Homo sapiens: one gene and its partners. The protein of the gene in region 6 interacts with the protein of the main gene of each other region in a biochemical or structural test. Each region holds a gene or a part of one and is shown on either strand. Other genes may lie near its edges.

The links.
Region 1: of the proteins of ATXN3 (region 6) and RFFL, one has a biochemical effect on the other in vitro, tested with the Homo sapiens proteins (one large-scale study listed by BioGRID).
Region 2: the proteins of ATXN3 (region 6) and YAP1 form a complex in vitro, tested with the Homo sapiens proteins (one study listed by BioGRID).
Region 3: the proteins of ATXN3 (region 6) and RAD23A form a complex in vitro, tested with the Homo sapiens proteins (2 studies listed by BioGRID).
Region 4: the proteins of ATXN3 (region 6) and NEDD8 form a complex in vitro, tested with the Homo sapiens proteins (one study listed by BioGRID).
Region 5: of the proteins of ATXN3 (region 6) and UBE2W, one has a biochemical effect on the other in vitro, tested with the Homo sapiens proteins (one study listed by BioGRID).
Region 7: of the proteins of ATXN3 (region 6) and TRIM55, one has a biochemical effect on the other in vitro, tested with the Homo sapiens proteins (one large-scale study listed by BioGRID).

Annotation. Positions count from the first base shown.
Region 1 is NC_000017.11:35,011,708-35,015,207, forward strand, and holds part of RFFL (E3 ubiquitin-protein ligase rififylin), read right to left. Parts: intron 3,057-3,500; coding exon 3,033-3,056; intron 443-3,032; coding exon 261-442; 3' UTR 1-260.
Region 2 is NC_000011.10:102,116,947-102,120,446, reverse strand, and holds part of YAP1 (transcriptional coactivator YAP1), read right to left. Parts: intron 1-3,500. UniProt on the Homo sapiens protein: Transcriptional regulator with dual roles as a coactivator and corepressor. Critical downstream regulatory target in the Hippo signaling pathway, crucial for organ size control and tumor suppression by restricting proliferation and promoting apoptosis.
Region 3 is NC_000019.10:12,951,502-12,954,142, reverse strand, and holds the end of RAD23A (UV excision repair protein RAD23 homolog A), read right to left. Parts: intron 1,455-2,641; coding exon 1,290-1,454; intron 1,208-1,289; coding exon 1,094-1,207; 3' UTR 501-1,093; downstream 1-500. UniProt on the Homo sapiens protein: Multiubiquitin chain receptor involved in modulation of proteasomal degradation. Binds to 'Lys-48'-linked polyubiquitin chains in a length-dependent manner and with a lower affinity to 'Lys-63'-linked polyubiquitin chains.
Region 4 is NC_000014.9:24,216,357-24,219,362, forward strand, and holds the end of NEDD8 (ubiquitin-like protein NEDD8), read right to left. Parts: intron 2,076-3,006; coding exon 2,028-2,075; intron 1,860-2,027; coding exon 1,777-1,859; intron 868-1,776; coding exon 771-867; 3' UTR 501-770; downstream 1-500. Other genes in the region: NEDD8-MDP1 protein, read right to left, coding at 1,777-1,859, 2,028-2,075. UniProt on the Homo sapiens protein: Ubiquitin-like protein which plays an important role in cell cycle control and embryogenesis via its conjugation to a limited number of cellular proteins, such as cullins or p53/TP53.
Region 5 is NC_000008.11:73,805,863-73,809,362, reverse strand, and holds part of UBE2W (ubiquitin-conjugating enzyme E2 W), read left to right. Parts: intron 1-3,500. UniProt on the Homo sapiens protein: Accepts ubiquitin from the E1 complex and catalyzes its covalent attachment to other proteins.
Region 6 is NC_000014.9:92,079,083-92,082,582, forward strand, and holds part of ATXN3 (ataxin-3 reference isoform), read right to left. Parts: intron 3,385-3,500; coding exon 3,218-3,384; intron 1,980-3,217; coding exon 1,883-1,979; exon of another isoform or gene 1,871-1,882; intron 387-1,870; exon of another isoform or gene 333-386; intron 1-332. UniProt on the Homo sapiens protein: Deubiquitinating enzyme involved in protein homeostasis maintenance, transcription, cytoskeleton regulation, myogenesis and degradation of misfolded chaperone substrates.
Region 7 is NC_000008.11:66,151,129-66,154,628, forward strand, and holds part of TRIM55 (tripartite motif-containing protein 55), read left to right. Parts: intron 1-1,248; coding exon 1,249-1,499; intron 1,500-2,918; coding exon 2,919-3,206; intron 3,207-3,500. UniProt on the Homo sapiens protein: E3 ubiquitin ligase that plays an important role in regulating cardiac development and contractility, muscle growth, metabolism, and fiber-type differentiation.

The DNA of each region.
Region 1 (3,500 bases), on a different chromosome or scaffold from region 6:
CATCATCACTCCAAGATCACTGAACCAAGAACATACCCATGTGATTTATACAAGTTCCCACTGGCCTTGGGCTTTGCCAGCCAAGAGGTACACCCCTGGGAAGACAGGCATGCTCAGGGGTGACATGGCATCTTGCTTGACCTGGTTTTGGGAACCCTGCAATATTTCTACTAGCTTGCTCCTCTGCAAGCTGGCCAACCCTGAGCCCAGACACCCCAGGCTATTTCCCTGTAAGGCACTGAAGAAACCGATGCAAGCTCTCAGGACCGGAAGACATGCACAGCTCGGATTACATACTGCCGGCAGATGGGACATTCATTCATGCGCTTGCCACACTTGGTACAGGTTACCATGTGGCCACACTCCAGAAGAACACAGTCAATGGGTGAGTCCATGCAGATCTTACACAGGTTCTCCTCCAAGCCTGATGGTACTGCTCCCCCTGTACAAACACACAGGGCAGAAAAAAAGGGGCAGAGGAGTGAGGAGAATGTCTTAAGTGTATAGGGGTGACTGGGGGAGGGAGGTGGGAGATAACAGGTACATTGTAAACAAAGTCTCAGTGCACATGCTTCCCTCAAATAGAGCTCCTCCGAGGAAACATTTCCTCAATAACCAACTCTGGTTACTTGTTTAATCCACACTTCATCCCCTCCAACAGGTAAAGATTTGAAAAGTACACAGCACTTGTGGATCAGACACATCCCAGAACATGAGAACTAAGGCAAAGTTCTCAAAGCTTAAAAGAAATAATTTTCAGACTGTTGGGGCTGTAATATAGTGAGTGTGTGAGTGGCACGTAGGGACTCATTATCCCCTGAGGCAGAACAGGCTAAAAAGATAAAACTGGTTCAGAAAAGTTTAGATAGAAATGGAACTGTGATGAATGGTTCATTAAGGATCACAAGGCTTTATCTATAAACATATCCTCCATTTAATAAAGTCAGGGATCATGGGGGACCCCTCTGCTATCTCACAAACTACTCCCAGGTTTCCTGAGGAAACTTCCTGGTGGAGAAACTTGGCAGAGATTACTGCTCCCTCTTTCTACCCCCACAAAACTTTTTTATACCCCCATGACTGCTTATCACATTGGATTAAAATTTTGAGTTTGCCTACTTACTCCCAGAGTAGACTATGAGCTCTTTAATTCAACATATTCAATCAATTTTTACAATTATATGCTTAGCATTTATTCCATGCTCCAAGGTTAGATATTCATCTTTGAAGCCCCCAATGCCAGTTATATGGTAGGTACTCTAAATGTCTGATGAATGAACATCTTCCCAAGGGAATGACAACATCCCACATTTACTGAATGCTTACCGTGTGCCAGGCAGGGTCCTGAAAGCTTTGCATGTGTTAACTCACTGAAGCCTCACAAAAACTATAAAGTAGGACCTCTTGTTATTTTCATTTTATAGATGAGGCCAACTGGGGCAAAAAAGTTAAGTGGCTTGCCCAAGGGCACAAAGCTGCTAAGTCGAGGAGCCAGGATTCAAACCCAGGCAGGCTGGCCCCACAGCTCCTGCTCTAGAATGGCCTTCTGCCTAACTGCCCTAAGAGTAGAAACTATCCAGACAGTATCAACTGCTGAGTGCACAGGGTTCTCAATAAATGCTAACTGGCTTGTGTCACTAGCAGAATATAGTGGGCATGACCAGTATCCTAGTAGAGCTGACCCAAACAGAAAAAATAATGTTCAAAAGCCCAGCCATCTCCAATATGTCTTAAATTGTAGCCTGAAGTAGGTACCCATAAAAAGGAACTGATCTCACAGAAGTCACCTCTACCATCTGGGGGTTGGCCAACCCATAGAGGAATTCTCCCTTATTGCATCTATACTTTCTCTTTTCTGGACTATTAAAAAGTCAAGAAATACTTCCCCCTAGGAGGTAGGCTGGGTGTGAAAGGGAGTGAAACCCATTTGCCTCTTTTGAGGTGCTGTTGGTCCTAACAGAGGTTTGGAGACTATACAAATACCTAAGATGAATGGGAATAATTTATAATTTTCAGTTACTCATTCTCTCAGAAGTAACAACAAACACATTAACTCAGTTGTCAGCATTCTCCCAGGGAATCAGAAAAAGAAAGGAAGCACCAAGTAGATCAGCCTGATCTTGGTACCGGTGATGCTGGGGGGTTGGAGGGTGGAGGTGGGTCTAGAACTCCAAATGGTTTTGGGGAATTGAGAAAAGCTCAACTGTTTTTTATGTCTGATTAGAAGTAATCAGACATAAAATTGCCCATTCTGAGCAAAAGGCCATTTTACTAAATAAATTTGGGAAATCTTCTGAAATAAGTTTTAAAATGCTGCAGGCTAGTCCAACACTACTCTTAGAACGTTCTCTCTTGGAAGGGAGTTCACAACCATATACCCTTGAGGCTTTTGAAAACACATAGCATATTTTAGAATGTCCCCACAGATGGTCAGGAGTTCTGCAGTGTGTTCTGGGAGTACCTGAGGGCCCAGTGGTGGTCTTTAAGTGAGTGGCAGCTGAGCTGAGATATATAGCTTGTGCCCAGAGAGTAGCACATGTGTTAGCTCCAGAGTAGCTCTAACCATTACCAGCCCTGTACAAACAGGGCTGTCTCAGGTCACCACCCTTTCTTTTTGGTTAGTACCAGAAGCTGCTAAACACCCTGATTCCCCAGAAGGTGTACACAGAGACCCTCCCTACCCAGACCAGAACTGAAAACACCAAGATTTTAAAAAATGAGCTGAGTGTGATACATGCCACCCCTCCTCTGTTTCAGTGTTTTACAAATGTTGGCTTATGAGCTCAGGTAGCCCAGGGACATGCACATCAGTCAGTCCGCCCCTACGTATGCTCCACTCTGCTTCCTGCACAGCGAGCAGAGAGAATTTCTAAAGATGGTGAGAGGCCCCCTGGGTCTCAGTGAGTTTCCCACACACCCTCTCTCTGGGGGCTCAAATGCTCAGAATTCTTAGATTACTAAAGGGATTGGGGTTGAAGGAGGGGAAGGACAAAAGGGCCTAAGCCCATTCCCAAACAGAAACAACTACATACCGTTTTGGTCTTCGGCACCACTGACTGAAAAGGAAAGAGAAGGATGTCTGAATAGGTAAGGCATGATGGTACAAATACAGTCTCTTACTGCCCTGACATCATTTCTGAACTCTTACCACTCCCTGCTGGGAACCAGGCTTGCCAAGAGCCTAGATGGACATCTGCCCTCTACTCGCTCTACATGCTCAGAACTCACACAAAGCTCCTACTCGTGCATCTGGTCTACTTTTATTTTTTATTTTTTTGAGATGGAGCCTCACTCTCTTGCCCAGGCTGGAGTGCAGTGGCATGATCTTGGCTCACTGCAACCTCTTTCTCATGGGTTCAAGCGATTCTCCTGCCTCGGCCTCCTGAGTACCTGGGGACTACAGGCACATGCCACCACTCCCGGCTAATTTTTTGTTTTTGGTGGAGATGGTGTTTCACCATGTTGCCTATGCTGGTCTTGAACTCCTGATCTCAAGTGAT
Region 2 (3,500 bases), on a different chromosome or scaffold from region 6:
GCCATTTGCACTATTTTATTAATTTGCAACATCATTCAAAGAAACAACAGACTATCACTTGGTTGGTGTGTTTAAAAATTATGATTCTTCTCATGCTAGGAGCAAAATGAGGATTAAATACTGACCATTTTCCTTGTCTAGAATATTAAAGGGGAGGTGGGGAGGACTGCTGTGATTTAAACCAAACTTCTTTGTTTGCATTTAGAAGGGGTCAAGCCCTACGTAAATAAAAGTGCTTCCACGGTGGCAGTACTTGTTCCCAGGAAACTTGGTGCTACAGCACTTGAGCAACCAGAACCATGAAGCAATTCTTCTTCATAGAAACGGCAATGTCCCTTTCATGGCTTGTAGTTCTGATTAATCCTAGAATCAGAAGCCCTTTTTGTAAGAAGTGCATCACCTAGTAACCACAGTTATAGAACGACACAGCTCTTTAAGACCTCCCTTTATACAATGCTACTCAGCTATTATTAAAAACTTTCAAGCCACAATTAATGGCTAAATTATGCTATTACAGAGGGTAGCATTAAGTTTGAATAATCTTAAATCTTAGCAACTGATTTTTAAAATGACTTCACTTTGATTGGTCCTAAGCTTAAATTTCTATATATATTTTGGCAATAAAACAGTTTAGAGTTTACCTCCCCTCAAAGCCTTAAGGTACAAGGCAATGCAGAGTCATGATACCCTGAGTATTTTAAGCTGTGAATTCACATTATTTTTCTAACTACAAAGTAAAATATTTCTCTACATAACTAAAGAGGACTTATTTTAGGGTTGTAAAAACCTGGGTTTTTTTTTTTTCCAAGTTTCAACTATTTAAATGCTATCTAGATGTTTGGGTTTTTTTTTAATGGCTAAGATAAAGCTTTAGGAAAGGGTATTTTTTTTTAAATGTGACTTTAAAAAGAAAATTAGCCTACCACCTTGCAGTCAATTGAGTCTGCTACATTTAAACTTCCAGAGATAGTTCTAGAATTCTTTCTAGAACTAAGAATCATAATTTTTAAACACACCAAGTGACAGTCTGTTCTTTGAATGATGCTGCAAATTAATTAAATAATGCAAAGAAGTTCTAGTGAACTTCTTTCTTAGTTCACACTAAAAAAATTCCATTATTTTTCCCAGGGAATATGTTAATCTCTATGTTCTATTTACTCTGTCACATCTACTATCTTCCAACTGTTTTTCTTCTGCCACTGGTGAATACAGTTTCTCCAGGGTTCTCTCCCTAAATCACTGTGGCACTGTGTGCCATTCTTCCCTGGGATGCCCACCCACTGAGCAGAAGTAAGCTCTCCCCCACCCCCCAGAGCTAAGGGCGTACTTTCATCTTCTCTCTCCACTCAGCCTCAATAGCAAGACAAACAAGCAGAGACTGGCCTTCCCTCAAATAGGGAAATACTTCGTGATTGCAATTTGAACTGGTTTTTTGTTTGTGTATACATGTGCACGTGTGCAACTTAACATTTAATGGCAAAATTACAAGCTTTTCAGTTTTAAAGGGAAACTCTGGGTTATACTTGATACAGAAAGAAACAGTATAGCCTTATTCTTCATGAAACTTCCTTTTAAAGAGGCATAATCTTTATTATGAAGATACACTGTATATGTTCTGTATACAATGTATAAATACCAGGTACACTGTATATGATAACAACATACACTGTATATGTTCATAGTCTTTTTTTTTTTTGAGATAGAGTCTGGCTCTGTCGCCCAGGCTGGTGTGGAGTGGTGCAATCTCAACTCACTGCAGCCTCCACCTGCCAGGTTCAAGCAATTCTCCTGCCTCAGTCTCCTGATTAGCTGGGACAATAGGTGTGCGCCAACACACCCGGCTAATTTTTGTATTTTTGTAGAGATGGGGCAGGAGAATCACGCGAACCCAGGAGGCAGAGGTTGCAGTGAGTTGAGATCGTGCCACTGCACTCCAGCCTGGTCAACAGAGCAAGACTCTGTCTCAAAAAAAAAAAAAAAAGGAAAGAAAGAAAAAAGAATCAGCCTATGTATAGCGATCAATCACATCTACAAGGCAAATTAATATAGGAATATGGGTAGTTTTATGCCATGCAATGTCAAAAATCTCTGAAAAACATATCCTTTTTAAATTGTATACCAAGCTACTCAATATAACTTAATCAAATCACAGCCACAAAAAACCTTGAATCTTCGCAGACTAAAAACATTGTGGCCAGTTATTCAGAAAATGATAAACAATGGAAATGAAACAAAACTGTGCTTTAAAAATTATTAGAACATTATTAAAACAATGCAAATGTACAAACTTTTAAAATCACTGATCCAGATTCCTTAAATCAAATTATAAGGTCCTACATGGTACATTATATATAAGAACACATATCTTTGAACATGGTAATAGTTATAAGGCATCAGAGTCAATAAAATAAACTTGCAAGTAAAACACTCCTTGAAACCAGAGATATTATAGAATACTGAGTCAGGAAGTTATTCAGCAGCTTATAAAGAAATAGGAAGTTGTTGACCAACTACTTGAAGAACTATTTCCTGTAGGAAAACCGTAAGACAGCTGAAGAAGGTAATAACTCTCAGAGTCATAAAGAGAATGAATTCTTTTAAAATGAAAGCTCAATACGATGGTAAAGAAAATAGTTTTGAATAGTAAATGTAGTAGAACAAATATTATATGGCTAAGCCTTGTTTACATACTTCACATTCATCCCAGAGCTTGAAAACAAGCCACTGATAAATGTAACTAGCACCATACTTCCACCGTATCACTTGCCAAAGTAAGGTATGAGTCTCCTCCACAAGATCTCACTGACCTAAGGAGGGCTTTAAAACAACGAATGATTGCCTGCTTATAATCTTTCAGTAATCATGCTGCCTGGAAACTAGATGATAGGCCAACTAACTTCAAAAACTCAATCATCTATGGTCACAAGGCCAACAACTGGGTTGTTTCTTAACATTTCTAAGTTTTTTCTCAAATTACATCGTCTTGCCTGTCTGGACCATTTATAGTCAGGTTCTTCATGCCAAATATAAATCTCAATAAGTTATAGACTTTGTAACTTAAAAGTCAGTTCCAACAAATATCTAAAAAGATGCATTAAAATAAAATGTTTCATTGCGGAAACAAGTGTAAGGCAACTAATTTAAATCTTCATTCTACATCTGATGACAACAACACTCCTCTTTAGATACAAGAGGAAAGTATATAAATATTGATTACAAAGACAGCCCTATTTTAAAACATCAAAACTAGGATAAAAATGAACTTTGACAACAGAAACTTGGCACCAAAAGCTTAGTTTATCATCATCTTTGACTAATGGTTAGGATATTAATCTCATTTGTCTGTTCAGTACACAAAAAGAAGTTGTAACAACTATACGGTCCATAACATCATGGAAGTAGCTAACTGGAGAAGGTGAAATAATCTTATTTCATAACTTTTCTCCAAATTGCATAATGTTCATAAAGCAGATACTCTTTAAAATACAAAATTTTATAAG
Region 3 (2,641 bases), on a different chromosome or scaffold from region 6:
AAGGTGTGCCTCTCTGGGTCCCCTGGTTCCTCCCCCAATACTTAAGAGCTGGGGAATCCCCCACTTGGCTGTACTCAAAAGGGGACAGGGACTCTAGGCCCTGCTGACTAACTGGGGCTTCAGTGGGAGGAAAAGGGGGGTGTACAATGGGCAAATAATGGAGAAGCAGATGGCAGAAGAGAAGAAGGCTTCTGTTTACCAACATTCATCTCCAGTAATTAGCCAATTACAAGGCTGGTGGGGGGGGAAGTATAGCCAAAACAGACTGTGGTGATGATGGTGGGGGCCGGGGAGAAGCAGTCCTTGTAACGTTGGGCTGGGGTCCACTGCCTGGAAATGACACACTGGGGGAGGAGACACCGGAAGCCTCAATCTGCAGGGACTCACAGACTCCTCTCCCCCTTCCAGGCACCCGTCACCATGCCTGCCTGTGCCCAGCCAGCCCCCCAAGACCCAGACAGGTGGGCGCGGGGAGCCCCAGCAGGCACAGACCATAGGGCTAGTTTTTAAAACTTTATTCACTTCAAAACCTTTATCAGAGACACGGTTCTGTTCTGGGGTGGGGGTGGCCTTGACAATGAGCTGATGTTAGCCCTTCTCCAGGCTGGAGGCCAAGGCCAGACTGGGGAGGGGGCCTTGGGCCTTTCAGGACTTGCCCTAGATGGAAAGATTTGGGCCACTCCAATGGAGGATCAAAGTTGGGGCTCCAGCTTCCCCTCATCCTAGAAGAGGATGGGGGGGGGTCCTCAGGGGTTTTTCGGAGGATGGAGAGGCAAGCAGCCGCCTTTCCGTCTGGCTGCAGAGAGCTGGGACAGAGGCCAAGAGGGGCCCATCTGTCGCCTCCCAGTCCTGCCAGCTTCTCTGAGCAGGCTGGGCTGGGGAGGAGGACGGGGGGACAGCTGTCTGGCCCGGGAGATGGGAACAGGGGCCACTTTAGGAGGACAGGAAGCTGGACTGTTTGCTTGTTTTTTTAAGATTTTTGATTTTTTTTTCCATTTCTTAAATAAACATGAATATATATATATTTTTTCTTTTATAAAACTTTCATGGAATAAGGGTAGGGTGGGGGCTTCGGTGGCCTGGCTTCCTGGCATCACTCGTCATCAAAGTTCTGACTCAGGAGGAAGTTGGCAGCCAAGTTCTCATTTTTTTCACACGCGAAATAGGCCTGGATGACCAGGCTCTCTGGGAAGCCCAGGGCCTTCAACTGTGGGAAGATAGGTTAAGTGTGAGCAGGAGAGGGTAGGGGTCCTGCCCACCTGCAGTCACCCCTCAGCCAGGCCTCTTACCCTCTCTATAGCTTCTTTCTCCTGCGGCGTCACCTGGATGTAGTTCATCTGCGGGGCCTCCTCTCCTATGGCGCCCACCTCCCCCTCCACATCTGAGATGTCCGCCAGCTCCCCAGGGGGCTCGTTCAGCATCTGGATGAACTGCTCCTGGTGCCGGCTGATTTGCTGCAGGAGAGGGTGGGGAAGGGAAGGTAATTCACAGCCCTGGTCCCCTCCTCTCCCCAGGTCATCACAGCCCTTGCTTTTTCATTCAGTCAGGCAAATATCCAGAGGAGCCTGTTCTGGCCAAACACAACATAGCAGTCGACACAAGCCCTACCCTGGAAGAGCTGATGATGTGCTTTTAAGTGAGCCAAGAAATAAGCCGGGCACGGTGGCTCACACCTGTAATCCCAGCACTTTGGGAGGCAGAGGCAGGTGGATCACTTGAGGTCAGGAGTTCGAGTCCAGCCTGGCCAACATGGTGAACCCCCATCTCTACTAAGAATACAAAAAGTAGCCAGGTGTGGTGGCAGACGCCTGTAATCCCAGCTACTTGGCAGGCTGAGGCATAAGACTGAACCCAGGAGGCGGAGGCTGCAGTAAGCCACTGAACTCCAGCCTGGGCAACAGAGCAAGACCCTGTCTTGAATAAATAAATACATAAATAGGCTGGCTGCAGTGGTTCACACCTATAATCACTTCAGGTGATTCTAGACCAGCCTGGAGTTCGAGACCAGCCTGGCCAATATGGTGAAACTCCGTCTCTACTAAAATACAAAAATTAGCTGGGTGTGATGGCACGTGCCTGTAATCCCATCTACTCAAGAAGGCTAAGGTAGGAGAATCACTTGAACACAGGAGGCAGAGGTTGCAGGGAGCCGAGACTGTGCCACTGCACTCCAGCCTGGGCAAGAGACTCTCAAAAAATAAGTGAGTGAGCCAATAAATGAACCAGACAACTGCAAGTGTCTGGCTAGGAAGGAACTGCAGATGAGGGCTGGTGGAGAGGCCTGCAGTATGGCGGATGCAGAGGGTTTCCTCCAGGTAAAGCAAACAGCAAGTGCAAAGGCCCAGGGTGGATGCATCTGGGAAGTCTCAGAAACAGAAGCAGGAACAGAGTGAATGGGGCTGGGCACGGTGCCTCATGCCTGCAATCCCAGTACTTTGGGAGGCTGAGGCAGGCAGATCACTTGAGGTCAGGAGTTTGAGAGCAGCCTGACCAACATGGAGAAATCCCATCTCTACTAAAAATATAAAATTAGCAGGGCGTGGTGGCACATGCCTGTAATCCCAGCTACTCTGGGGGCTGAGGCAGGAGAATCTCTTGAACCCAGGAGGCGGAGGTTACGGTGAGCTGAGATCACGCCACT
Region 4 (3,006 bases), about 68 Mb from region 6:
CTTTCTGCATTATCAACCTCCTGACAGTGTAGAACCCAAAGTCCTCAGTAATATTCCAGCCATAGAGTACAGTGTCAGCCAAACCCTTGAAGGCGTTCTCCAACCAGGCCTAAATGTCCAGTACAGCCACAGTCAAGAGAGAATTCACTCTCCGAAGGTTTCACCATCCATGTCAGCACTACACTGGTAGATGTATAACAACCAGTTTGTGGGGAGGAACTGATCTGTAGTGTTTGCTAGTTTCTGTAAATAATCCTACCATGGCCAATTTCAAGCTACCAACATGAAGTCACTTAATAGAGTTGGAAAAAGGTGCCAATAATTGGCTCTCATTAGCCACTAGGAACTGGTTCCAACACACCACTAAGTAGGTTTTCCTAGAGTCTGATAATCCCCGTAAGAGCACCATTCCTTCCACTGTCCGATTCCTTCAGCCTGCTATAACTGAGTGAGCATTAGGTCCATTTTTATTTCAGTCAACTTGTGCAACAGAAGAAAGATTCCAGGAGGCCAGGAAATATTTTATTGACAACCAGGGACACAGTCATAAGAGAGGGAAGCACACAGGACTGCAAACTAACACCCAGTAGCCAGCAAGGGCCCTCTGGGCCAGGAATACTGAATCCTGGGATCCTCACAGTCTCCCACCAGTAGACATACATTACTGGGCATCCAGGGGAGGGGGCAGTGGCTATGGTGTCCCAGAGAGTGAGAGGATATATGATGCCTCATTATGAGCGACAGGGTAAAGAGGTAAAATGGAGGGTCCATCACTGCCTAAGACCACCTCCTCCTCTCAGAGCCAACACCAGGTGAAGGACTGAACCACCTAAAATCTTGTAATCAGCTGCTGTCTTCTCATCATTCCTGCAGGAAAAGGAAGCCAGAAAAAAAAGAAAAAGAAGACTTAGGAGTTTTTTGTTGTTGTTGTTGTTGTTGTTGTTGTTGTTTTTGACAGAGTCTCGCTCTGTCATCTAGGCTGGAGTACAGTGGCACGATCTCAGCTCACTGCAACTTCCACCTCCTGGGTTCAAGCAATTCTCCTGCTTCAGCCTCCTGAGTAGCTGGGATTACAAGCGCCCACCACCACGCCCAGCTAATTTTTGTATTTTTAGTAAAGATGGGGTTTCACCATGTTGGCCAGGCTGGTCTCGAACTCCTGACCTCAGGTGATCCACCCCCTTCAGCCTCCCAAAGTGCTGGGATTACAGGCGTGAGCCACTGCGCCCGGCCAGAACAGGAGTTCTTGAGTTTCCTGGATCTCTTTGGGGGTCTGTGAACTTGAATGAGAAAAAAAATCCCATCTTTATTTTTACTAACCCCCAACTGAAATTTAACATTTCTTCTAACTTTAAACATAGCCCAAAAACCACAGTAGTATTAGCAATATAGGTAACTTGTTAACAATAGCAATTAACTATTTTCTATCATGATCATTTATAGGTATCTTGAAAATATTTCAAAATTATGGTCATATTAGACCTACCATTAGATCTTATGCATTAATAAAAAAGTACATATATTACTATATCACAAATTTGTTTTAGTATTTTAATAACTATTTCAATATAATTAGTTTTCCTTTAATTCTATATATTTTGTTTTATGCCTGAAAAAATCTTATTCTGAGAAGGGGCTTAGAGGCTTCACCAGATTGCCAAAGAGTCTTAGGCACCAAAAACAAGAGGCACCCCTGATCCACCTCAGTACGTGCCCCCTCTCCTCTTCTCATCTTCACATAAGATCGCCATGCTGTCATTCTCACTCCAAACTCACATCTGCTTGCCACTGTAGATGAGCCTCTGCTGTTGTGGGGGGATTCCCTCTTTCTCCTCCACACGCTCCTTGATTCGCTCCACCTTTAGAGAGACAAGTAGTCAGGGGCTGCTGCTTAGGGGTAGGACCATGGAAACGGAAAGAACAAGGGCTATGCAGACAGCATGAGAGCAAAAGGACCAAGTTCATAAGCATATGCAAACAAATACACATGGCAAGAAGTACATGAAGAGGAGTTGGGCATGCATCACCTTGTCTGTAGGTTCAATGTCAATCTCAATCTCCTTTCCGGTCAGCGTCTGAAACAGGCAATGGTTTCATGAGTCCTTAAAGCCCAATGTACAATTTGTCTTCTAGGTAAAACATCCTATGTTGGTCTTTGGGATCTACTGCCTTCTAAAAGATGCATATTCTCAGCAGCACTGCTTTGGAGAATGAGAAGGCTTTGAACATACCTTCATTTATCAAATATTTTTAGGCTGTAAACAACTTTGATAGGGCAAGATTCTTTGAACCATCTGATCCTCTTAATTCCATGAGTCATCTTCCAACATCAGTCCCCCAAAATCAGTGAGAATATTGGCATTATTTTAGATGATACGGCAATGAAAGGATTTATTTATTTATTTTTGAGATGGAGTTTCGCTCTTGTTGACCAGGCTGGAGTGCAATGGCACAATCTCGGCTCACTGCAACTTCTGCCTCCCAGGTTCAACCAATTCTCCTGCCTCAGCCTCCCACGTAGCTGGGATTACAGGCATGCGCTACCAGGCCTGGCTAATTTTGTATTTTTAGTAGAGACAGGATTTCTCCATGTTGATCAGGCTGGTCTCAAACTCCCAACCTCAGGTGATCCACCCGCCTCAGCCTCCCAAAGTGCTGGGATTACAGGGGTAAGCCACTGCACCCAGCCTGAAAGATATCTTAAAAAAAGTCAGAAGGACCTTGTTCTAAATATCAATGCTAGAAATTAATATTCAGATAATTTGAAGAATTCTCAAGGACACCAGAAATCATCTCAGCAGTTTTTTAAAAAATGCTAGAATTGGCTGGGCATGGTGGCTCACACCTGCAATCCCAACACCTTGGGAGACTGAGGCGGGAGGATCACTTGAGCCTAGGAGTTCCAGACCAGCCTGGACAACACAGCGAAACCCTGTCTCAACCAAAACAACAACAACAACAACAACAACAACAAAAATTAGCTGAGTACAGTGGTGCATGCCTGTA
Region 5 (3,500 bases), on a different chromosome or scaffold from region 6:
TTTACAGTTTTCTTTCCTTTTCTCCAAATTGAACTGATTGTCATTTTTATTAAATTAGTATTTGGAGAACTTTTAAGATAATAGTTCATTTTTTAATGATAGGTTATTTAGAATCTGAAGCACTCTAAGCCACAGCATGTGAAATAATAGGTTAAATTGGTTTTGTTTTGTTTTTTTACTCATTTGTTGCTTATTGCTGTTATATTTTCTCCTCTCACCCACCCCCAACACACACACACGTTTTAAACTTTTATGTGTAGGGCAAAGCAGTTTGTGGGTACAAGGCCTTCTATGTTCCTGTTACGCTTAAAGACTATAGAAAGGTGAGACGGTAACAACAGTATTTAATAAGAAAGTTATTAAGAGATTAATGTCAGCGATATCTGTACATAGTCTTGCATGTGCCTCATGATTATTAGATTTTATTTACATTTAAATATAATGATTTATTATTAAAAACTAGAGAATGACTATATTCTGTGTACTTCCTTCATCTTCCTCTAACCCTCACCATTCCCCTTACATTCTAGTTGTCTGCTACTAGTGTTTCTTGTACACTTAGTATAAGACTAATCATTCCATTTAAAGCACTAATAAACTATGTTTTTACTGTAATAGTTGTATAATATTTAACCAAGATGATAATACAGAAATCAAGATTTCCATGAAATACGATAAAATTCAAAAAACATTTACTAGGTACCTAGTATGTGCTACTTTTACTGTGCTAAGTGATAAGTTACAAAGATGAAGAGGAAATTTGCCTTGGCATTGAGACGATCTGGCATTAGAGAGATCTAAGCTCCAAAGAAACCTTAAAAAGTGTTTTAGGCCAGGTGCAGTGGCTCACGCCTGTAATCCTACTACTTTGGGAGGCCGAGAAGGGTGGAGCACTTGAGGCCAGGAGTTCAAGAGCAGCCTAGGCAAAATGGCTAAACCCTGTTTACTAAAAATAGAAAAATTAGCTGGGCGTGGTGGCGCATGCCTGTAGTCCCAGCTACTTGGGAGGTTGATGCACAAGACTTGCTTAAACCCAGAGGCTGAAGTTGCAGTAAGCTGATATCACGCCACTGCACTCCAACCTGGGTAATAGAGCAAGACTCTGTCTCAAAAAAGAAAAAAGAAAAGTATTTTAAATACCCATCTACACGTTTTATTATTATTAAAACGGGTAAATTTTATTCCGTAGTGGACATGGTTCTATGGGCTTTACTTTGTTAATTCTACTACTATTAAATATTTTACTTTAGGTGTTTGGGACTTTAGTCATAATTCTTCTATTCCAATTTCCTTTTACACAGTCAGGAGTGGTTCCATAAACTGAAGGTATTTAAATCCAGTATGTCATTAGATTGTAGTGGATTAAAGATAATTTCTGATATTGAGATCACAGGACTTTCAGTAAATTCCACTTTATTTGCATGCCTTTGTAATATATTTACATTGTTCAAACTTTTCAGTTTGTATCCCATTCCTAAAACAATTTCGTAAGACTTCTTTTGTATAGTTTCTTTTCCAAGAACTGTATCTCCCTGATCATTTGTCAGGGAGATAAATGATTTAAGCAAATAGAATTGAGTATTTCTTTTTTCTAAATATGTATTTTTTGAAGACTTTTCTGATGATTCTTGGGTTCTAATCAACATATACATAAAATGAGTTTGTGAAAGTATCTGCTCTAGTAGTACCAATTCCATATGAACATAGATTTAACTTTGTAGAATCATCCCTTCCTTGAAGTAGTCAGGCATCTAATTTCATAATATTCATTTTTTAGGAATTTTCTCAAATTGTGTCCACAGATTGACTTGGAATACCTAAATGTCTTGACTGTCTTATGCTCTAATGTTTCTTTTTGTTAAATGAAATTACTAATATTAACACATAAGAGCATTGTGAGGCTCAACTAGACTGATAGTTACATATATGAGTTTTAGAAGTGCCAAATGGACTAACTGTTTTCCTTCCTGCTATCACAGAGTCCTACTCACGATTGCTTTCTGGTTAGACTTTCCTTAAATGATGTCATACCAAATTCACTTATTTTCATTAGCCTCAGGTAGAGGAGAGGATTCCCTTAATCTCTCATTTTCATTAGCTTAGCTAAGCAGATTTAAGTCTGAAAATAAATCCTGCATATACACTATACAATATTTAATGATAGGAAAATAATCAAGTTATTGGAATGATTCCGAAAGGCATAAAGGAGACTAAAGGATAAGGATATCTATCATAGTATCTATAAACTTTAATATAGCTTTAATATAAATTTGATGTTTCCAAGTCTTTGTAGAGGGTAACATTTTCTTTTGTCTAGGCAGTATGCAACAAATTTCAGGAAAAGTCTCTTCCATAATATATCTTCAGTGTTGTTGGCATCACTTTATCTGCGGTAGCTCCCTTGCGGAGCTGCCATATATTTCTCATATATTGTTCTAGTCAGGGCATATGTTCAGCAGAAAGGCCAATTATAGTAGAAATGCCAATATATATTTTTCCCATTTTTTCTCTTAAATATTGTTTAGAAACTGAATCTTCTGGTCTATCTTTGATGGTATTCTATTACAGTAAAAACAGTTCTTTGTGGAGGTTTGTACATTGCTATACTTCTCCCAACAAATCTAGTTTAGTAGACTTTTCTGTTTTGTTTTGAGACGAAGTCTGGTTCTGTCACGCAGGCTGGAGTGCAGTGGCGCAATCTCGGCTCATTGCAAGCTCCGCCTCCCAGTCTCACGCCATTCTCCTGCCTCAGCCTCCTGAGTTAGCTGGGACTACAGGCGCCCGCCAACACGCCCGGCTAATTTTTTTTTTTTTTTTTTTTGTATTTTTAGCAGACAGGGTTTCACCGTGTTAGCCAGGATGGTCTCGATCTCCTGGCCTCGTGATCCACCCGCCTCGGCCTCCCAAAGTGCTGGGATTACAGGCGTGAGCCACCGCGCCTGGCCCTTTGTTTTATTATTTATTTATTTTTTGAGATGGAGTCTCACTCTGTCACCCAAGCTGGAGTGCAGTGGCACCATCTCGGCTCACTGCAACCTCCACCTTCTGGGTTCAAGCAATTCTCCTGCTTCAGCCTTCCAAGTACCTGAGATTACAGATGCCCACCACTGCGCCCGGCTATGTTTAAATTATTATGTGAATTTGACTTTTCTCATCAGTCCTTTTTCATTCCCTTTATAATTTATTTAATTTTTTGTTTGTTTGTTTTGAGACGAGAGTCTCGCTCTGTTGTCAGGCTGGAGTGCAATGTCACAATCTTGGCTCACTGCAACCTCTGCCTCCCGGGTTCAATCAATTCTCCTGCCTCAGCCTCCCAAGTAGCTGGGATTACAGGCACGCACCACCATGCCCAGCTAATTTTTTTGTATTTTTAGTAGAGACTGGGTTTCACCATGTTGGCCAGGCTAGAACCTAACACAGACCACACTCAAACACGCTTATTATTCCTTTTTTAAATTTAGGTGTTAAGCATACACATTTCCTGGAATACATTTATAGTT
Region 6 (3,500 bases):
GGCTGAAGTGGGAGAATCGCTTGAACTCAGGAGGCAGAGGTTGCAGTGAGCAGAAATTGTGCCATTGCACTCCAGCCTGGGCAACAGAGCAAGACTCCATCTCAAAAAAAAAAAAAAAAAAAAGCAAGATTGGCCGTGTGCTAGTATTTGTTGAATCTGGGTCATAAACAGGAGTATGCTAGTTTTTCTACTTTTGTATAAATTTGGAGTTTATTATAATAAAAAAGTTAATTTTGAAACTTAAAAGTAAAAAGCACTAATAAGCACTACTTTGAAATTTAACATATAATTAGCCATTAATCTATACTGAATAAAGACTAGAAATATCTCACATTAAGAGGATGTCAGCTGATCAGAATTTTCCTTCATCTACTTCTGAGTTGTGACTTAAAAACAAAACAGAAAAAAAGGTAAATATTTTCTTCATTATACCATCAAATGTAAAATGAGCCAATATTTATAGGTGCTGCTAATATACTGTCAATTATGACTGTAAGATGCTTCTCAATTTCAGAGACATTGAAATGTGAAACTATGTGCATCTCAGAATGGATGAAATACAGCAAATAGTAAGTCAGATTGAGCTATGACTCTGTTTTCTGACCTAGGATCAGTGGGTCTGATTATTTATCTTGTAATCTTTAACATGAAGTTTTCTTTCTCTTTTTTTTTGAGACGAAGTCTCGCTCTTGTCCCCCAGGCTGGAGTGCAATGGCGTTATCTCAGCTCACTGCAACTTCTGCCTCCCAGATTCAAGCGATTCTCCTGTCTGAGCCTCCCAAGTAGCTGGGATTACAGGCACCCACCACCATGCCCGGCTAATTTTTGTATTTTTAGTAGAGATGAGGTTTCACCATGTTGGTCAGGCTGGTCTTGAATTCCTGACCTCAGGTGATCCACCTGCCTTGGCCTCCTAAAATGGTGGGATTACAGACGTAAGCCACCGTGCCCAGCCTTTTATTTTTCTTTAAAAAAAAAAAGTGGGGGACAAAAGTCTGAATGATAGTTACTTGAAAAGAATGTATTTTCATATGGTGGAATTCCTATTTAGCAAGCACTTACAAGGCTGGGCACAAGGTAAGGTTTTAGGAGTTGATCCAGATTTATGGTTTGCATCCATTCCCCTGATGCTAACAGGCTTACAGGACTGCCTGAAGCGGCCATGAGCAGCTAAATGAACTACCACGTCTATTTGGGAATGCGCTCCCATACCTCCAAAGCTGTTTTTCGTACTGATTGGTAGAGGAATTTTGCAGGGTTAATCAGGTAAGCAAGAAGTACATCCAAAGGATCAATTGGCATTCTTCTTGTCTTGTCCTAATTTCATTTTTCTTTTAATAAATGAAATTTTATAAGGTTTCCTTCACTCAGTTTAAAAAATTTATCCAGTATTGGGGCAAGGTTTTTTTGTTTCATGTTATTTGCCGTAAATTTTTATTTTTATTTATATATATATACATATATTTTTGGAGACGGAGTCTCACTCTGTCACCCAGTCTGGAGGGCAGTGGTGCGATCTCGGCTCACTGCAACCTCCACGTCCCGGGTTCAAGCAATTCTCCTGGCTCAGCCTCCCAAGCAGCTGGGACTACAGGCGCACGCTTCCATGCCCAGCTGATTCTTTTGTATTTTTAGTAGAGATGGGGTTTCACTGTGTTGCCCAGGCTGGTCTCGAACTCCTGACCTCAGGCAATCTGCCCGCCTTGGCCTCCCAAACTGCTAGCATCACAGGCGTAAGCCACCGTGCCCGTCCTATTTGCTGTAAATTTTTAAAAAATACATTCAAATATTCACAGGATTCAGGCAGTAACCATTTACAAATAGACAAAATAGCCAAAGCAAATATTAAACATGCTACTTTAACTTGTACCAACTACTTTACTTTTCAAAGTAGGCTTCTCGTCTCTTCCGAAGCTCTTCTGAAGTAAGATTTGTACCTGATGTCTGTGTCATATCTTGAGATATGTTTCTGGAACTACCTGAAAACAAAACACAACACAACAAAAACCAATCACTGTATTTACCAATTCAAGCAACAATATGTTTGTTTATACTCATTTGAGTAAGCCTTTAAAACGTTTTCTCTTTAAGAATATTCTACTCTTCTGGCTGGGCGTGGTGGCTCACACATGTAATCCCAGCACTTTGGGAGGCCAAGGCAGGTGGATCACCTGAGGTCAGGAGTTCAAGACCAGCCTGGCCAAAAGGGCAAAACCCTATCTCTACTAAAAGTACAAAAAATTAGCTGGGCGTGGTGGTAGGCGCCTGTAGTCCCAGCTACTCAGGAGGCTGAGGCAGGAGAATCGCTTGAACCTCGGAGGCAGGGGTTGCAGTGAGCCAAGATCACTGCACTCCAGGCTGGGCGACAGTGAGACTCTGACTCAAAAAAAAAAAAAAAAAAAAAGAAAGAAAAAAAAAAAAGAAAGAAATCTAAAGCTGATTTCTGTCCCTGCTAATCCAGCAGGACTCTATTAATCAAAAATGGGATTGCACACCATATGGAGTACTCAGAGGCATGCATAGAGGCAAGAAAAGTTCAGGATAAAAATAATCTTCCCATTAATGAAATTTCAATTTTATTTAGATATCTAAGGAAATCAACTGATAAATAATTTCATTAGAAAGTAGAAGCAAATACATATGAGTTAGAAAAAAATAAAACAAAAAACCCACTTCAAACTTTTAATTAAGCTACTTTGAGCTATGTCTTAACATTTTTCTTTGCCTAGATTGTCTAGGGGATATGTTTTCGCTTTTCTCTATTGATAGTTTATATCACTAAAAAACTGGGCCCACCAAAGTGGGCTTACGGTTTAAGTTGCATAGCCAATAAATGTTGGGTTTTTGTAAAATCAGTTTATATTCCCTGTCCAGGCCCTTCCATAGTGTCTAATGGCACATATTTATGTAACAGCTGATTTGGATAAGGGTCAACTGATACCCACAAAGATTAAAACCACAATTTACTATTGTGTTAGTACAGTGTTGAAACCAAATAAAATAACCAGGAGTAAAAATATAACTACTCCTAATAAAATATAGGTTGTAAAAAGTGATTTCCATTATAAGAAATCTAAAGGGAAAGCCCACTATATAGCTATTGCTTCTGCAGTAATTGTCAAAACACCTCTAAGAGTACATTAACTTCCATGAAATCTAAGAATAATTGGAATCAATTCTTCAGCAATGAATACAACACACATCAGAATGTCTTTACCTTGCATACTTAGCTGAATAGCCCTGCGGAGATCTGCTTCCTCATCTTCCATGTCAATTTCTTGGCGACTTAGTGCCAGAGCCCTCTGCAAATCCTCCTCATCTTCGTCTAACATTCCTGAGCCATCATTTGCTTCTAACACTCGTTCCAGGTCTGTTTTATGGACTCTAAAGAACAAAAGCACTGGTAATAACTGCAACCAATCTTCTATTTTAGACATAACATAAAGGCATTTGTAATGTAAAGGCTTTAAGTAAGTCAAAACTTAAAATGTTTTCTGGCA
Region 7 (3,500 bases), on a different chromosome or scaffold from region 6:
AGGAGGCATGTGGGTTAGATATTGCAGCACATCAACTTAATCAAAATTTAGAGGACAAGAATAGTAACAACTCATAGAATAAGTCACAACCTGAACATAAACCTGGGTCTGTGTGACTAGTTATACTCCCTGAGCTATAACCACATTCCTACCTTTTGGCCCAGAAGTCCCATTTCTGAAATTTTATCCTGATTAAATAATTGAAAAGTGAAAAACAATCTTGGAGCTGACCAAAACTTTGATCACTTTGACTCATGCTAGCCCACCTAGATGATCACACCCCTCAGCTAGACCACTAGACCACTAGTAATGCTATGAGGCTGCACCAACATCCACAGACAAAATTTTAAAGGCAAATCTTTAGGATGTATCTTTTTAAAAAAATCGCTTAATATTGCCTGTCCTTAATGTCGCCTGAGGGAATATTAAGATCAGTGGGTCAGGAAAAGAGTCACGGCATTCCAGCACTTTGGGAGGCCAAGGCGGGTGGATCACTTAAGGCCAGGAGTTTGAGACCAGCCTGGCCAACATGGTGAAACCCCATCTCTACTAAAAATACAAAAAAATTAGCCGGGCGTGGTGGCGTACGCCTGTAATCCCAGCTACTCCAGAGGCAGAGGCAGGAGAATCACTTGAACCCAGGAAGCGGAGGTTCCAGTGAGCTGAGATTGCACCACTGCACTCCAGCCTGGGTGACAGAGTGAGACTCTGTCTCAAAAAATAATAAATAAATAAATAAATAAATAAATAAATAAATAAATAAATAAAAGAGTCGTGACATTAATTATGGCAAAAGTCAGTATTCACTGAACAACAGAGGTAGAAAGCTAAAATGACAAAAGGGCTTTGTATGTTTTCTGAGACAGGGAAGACAGTTGCACTTCCATTTAATCTGACAGAGATAAATAAGTGACAATCCCAGGCCTCCAGGAGCTTGCAGATGTGGCAGACTGTAATAAAAATGTGGACGGGCTCTGGAAGGTGAAGGGCATTATGCACAGCAGAGGTGAAGACTTTGTACTGGGGAGGAGAACAAGGAGGATAGGGATGGTTCCTTCACATTTGTCCAGTCCACATTCCACTAGAAGCACAAAGCCCTGGCACGGCACACTTGGACCATTGTCAAGTGTCTGTCAGAGAAAAACTCCCCAGCCTTGACCTTAACTAGGGCTATAAGCACTGGCCATTAACTGTGTCCATGGCTGCAGAGATAGTTATAACAATTTACAAGATACCTTACCTTACCAGAAGATGAAGATGAAGAAGAAGAAGAAGGCGGAGAAGGAGAAAAAGAAGGAGAAGGAGAAGTGGGAGGAGAAGCAGTAGAAGTGGAAGAGGTAGAAAATGTTCAAACAGAGTTTCCAGGAGAAGATGAAAACCCAGAAAAAGCTTCAGAGCTCTCTCAGGTGGAGCTGCAGGCTGCCCCTGGGGCACTTCCAGTTTCCTCTCCAGAGCCACCTCCAGCCCTGCCACCTGCTGCGGATGCCCCTGTGACACAGGTAACCCCTCCTGAGTCTCTTTCTACAGGGCACATGGGCGTGTCTCCTTATGGAATAGCCTAAACAATTTACCCTATTCTGCCTTAAGAAAAAGATAACTATATGCCAGACATTCGTATATGGTAGACGAAAGATTTCAGGACAGTCCTCATGTCGGGGAGAAAAGTCCTCTAGGTGATTCAACAGGTTCTTTGTTGTTATTGTTAGTTAACAAAATTTAATACAACTTTCCCACCAGTAATGCCCTCAAATCAAAGGCAATCTTTGTCTGGAAATTGTGTGTGTGTGTGTGTGTGTGTGTGTGTGTGTGTGTGTGTGTCCATGTCTGTGTGTCATGTTAATTCATAGAGAGCTGATATCATGGGGACTGGGTCTGCTCTTTGTTACTTAGTGAATGTATATGTAGGGTATAGGATGAGAAATAAATAGCATACAGAGTAAGAAATAAAAGTGATTATACTTTCAGAACTTTGAATTTTCTGTAGATAATTGAGGGGGTAAATAGAGAAACTACACTAGTTTATGTTCCTGTTGCTTACCCTGAAATACAACTTATGTATTTTTCCTTCAGTGAGCAAACAATGAAGCCTGGTTTTCTATGGATTTGTCATTTGATGAGATTGTGTGTTGACAGAATTGTTTAAAACATATCTTAAGAAATAAGCTCACCCCAGATGCTGCACCTAATTGGTTGACCTCATGTTTCTAATACGTCACCGTCCAGTTTTCAAGCCTTTGTGCAGACTCCATGATACTTCAGCAGACAGGATCCCAACCTTTTGAGTTTGCAGGCAGTGCAGACTCATCAGAGAGGAGTCCTGCTTCTGCAACTGCTTTTGAAGTGGATTGAAACAAAACTCCAGAGGGGGATCTCAGAGATGGAACTGTATTTCTATGCTCTGTCTCCACAGGAAACCAGGCTAAAATGCCATTTATAGTCTAGAATTTTTAAATTCTGAGCATTTCAGTTGTATTAAAATTGAAAGAGGTATAGTAACTAAGTGAGGGTTGGATTTGATCAATAAGATTAATTTTTGTTTTTTATAATGAGGTTTTTGGGACTCACGTATAAAGCCAACAAATTATTCTAGTCAATAGTTTGACCCTTTTCCCATATCTGATATTTTATAACCAACATTCACTGAGGTTTCTGCTCTCTGCCTGCCTGGGCTCCCAGTGAGTGAAAGACAAGCTCAGAAAAGAAGAGGGCACCCATCCAGATGCTGGACAGAGGGGCACTGTAGTCACCATTCTGCCCTTAGCGCTTCTGGAGGGTGGGATGAACTAAAACGGCCACCAAGGCACTGCATGCAGGGAGCGCACAGTGTTCAAACCCAAAGGGAACTAAAATCAACTGCTTTTTCTTCTTCTTCTTCTTTTTTTTTTTCTTTACTTTTGAATTTATCTGTCCTGATTAAGGGGGAGGTTGTACCCACTGGCTCTGAGCAGACCACAGAGTCTGAAACTCCAGTCCCTGCAGCAGCAGAAACTGCGGATCCCTTGTTTTACCCTAGTTGGTATAAAGGCCAAACCCGGAAAGCCACCACCAACCCACCTTGCACCCCAGGGAGCGAAGGTCTGGGGCAAATAGGGCCTCCAGGTTCTGAGGATTCGAATGTACGGAAGGCAGAAGTGGCAGCAGCCGCAGCGAGTGAGAGGGCAGCTGTGAGTGGTAAGGAAACTAGTGCACCTGCAGCTACTTCTCAGGTTAGTGATGATGCACTTGTGTCTATGCTTTCCCGCGCCCCCTAGGGTCCCACTGGAACAGGCCACAGCAAGAAGAAAAAGGGTTTTCAAAGGGGCAGAGAGAAACCTCAGCCAGGGGAAAAGTACAGAAACAATTCATCCCCCAATGTTGGCTTGTTTTGAGCTCTATATAAAAGAAAACATAAAACAAAACAAATTTGAGTTCACTCTCCTGGTGCATGGTGACCTCACACCTGGCTTCCCAGGGGAGGGGTGCAAGTGAGCCTGGCCCTTAGGCATGCTACTGAGCGCTGC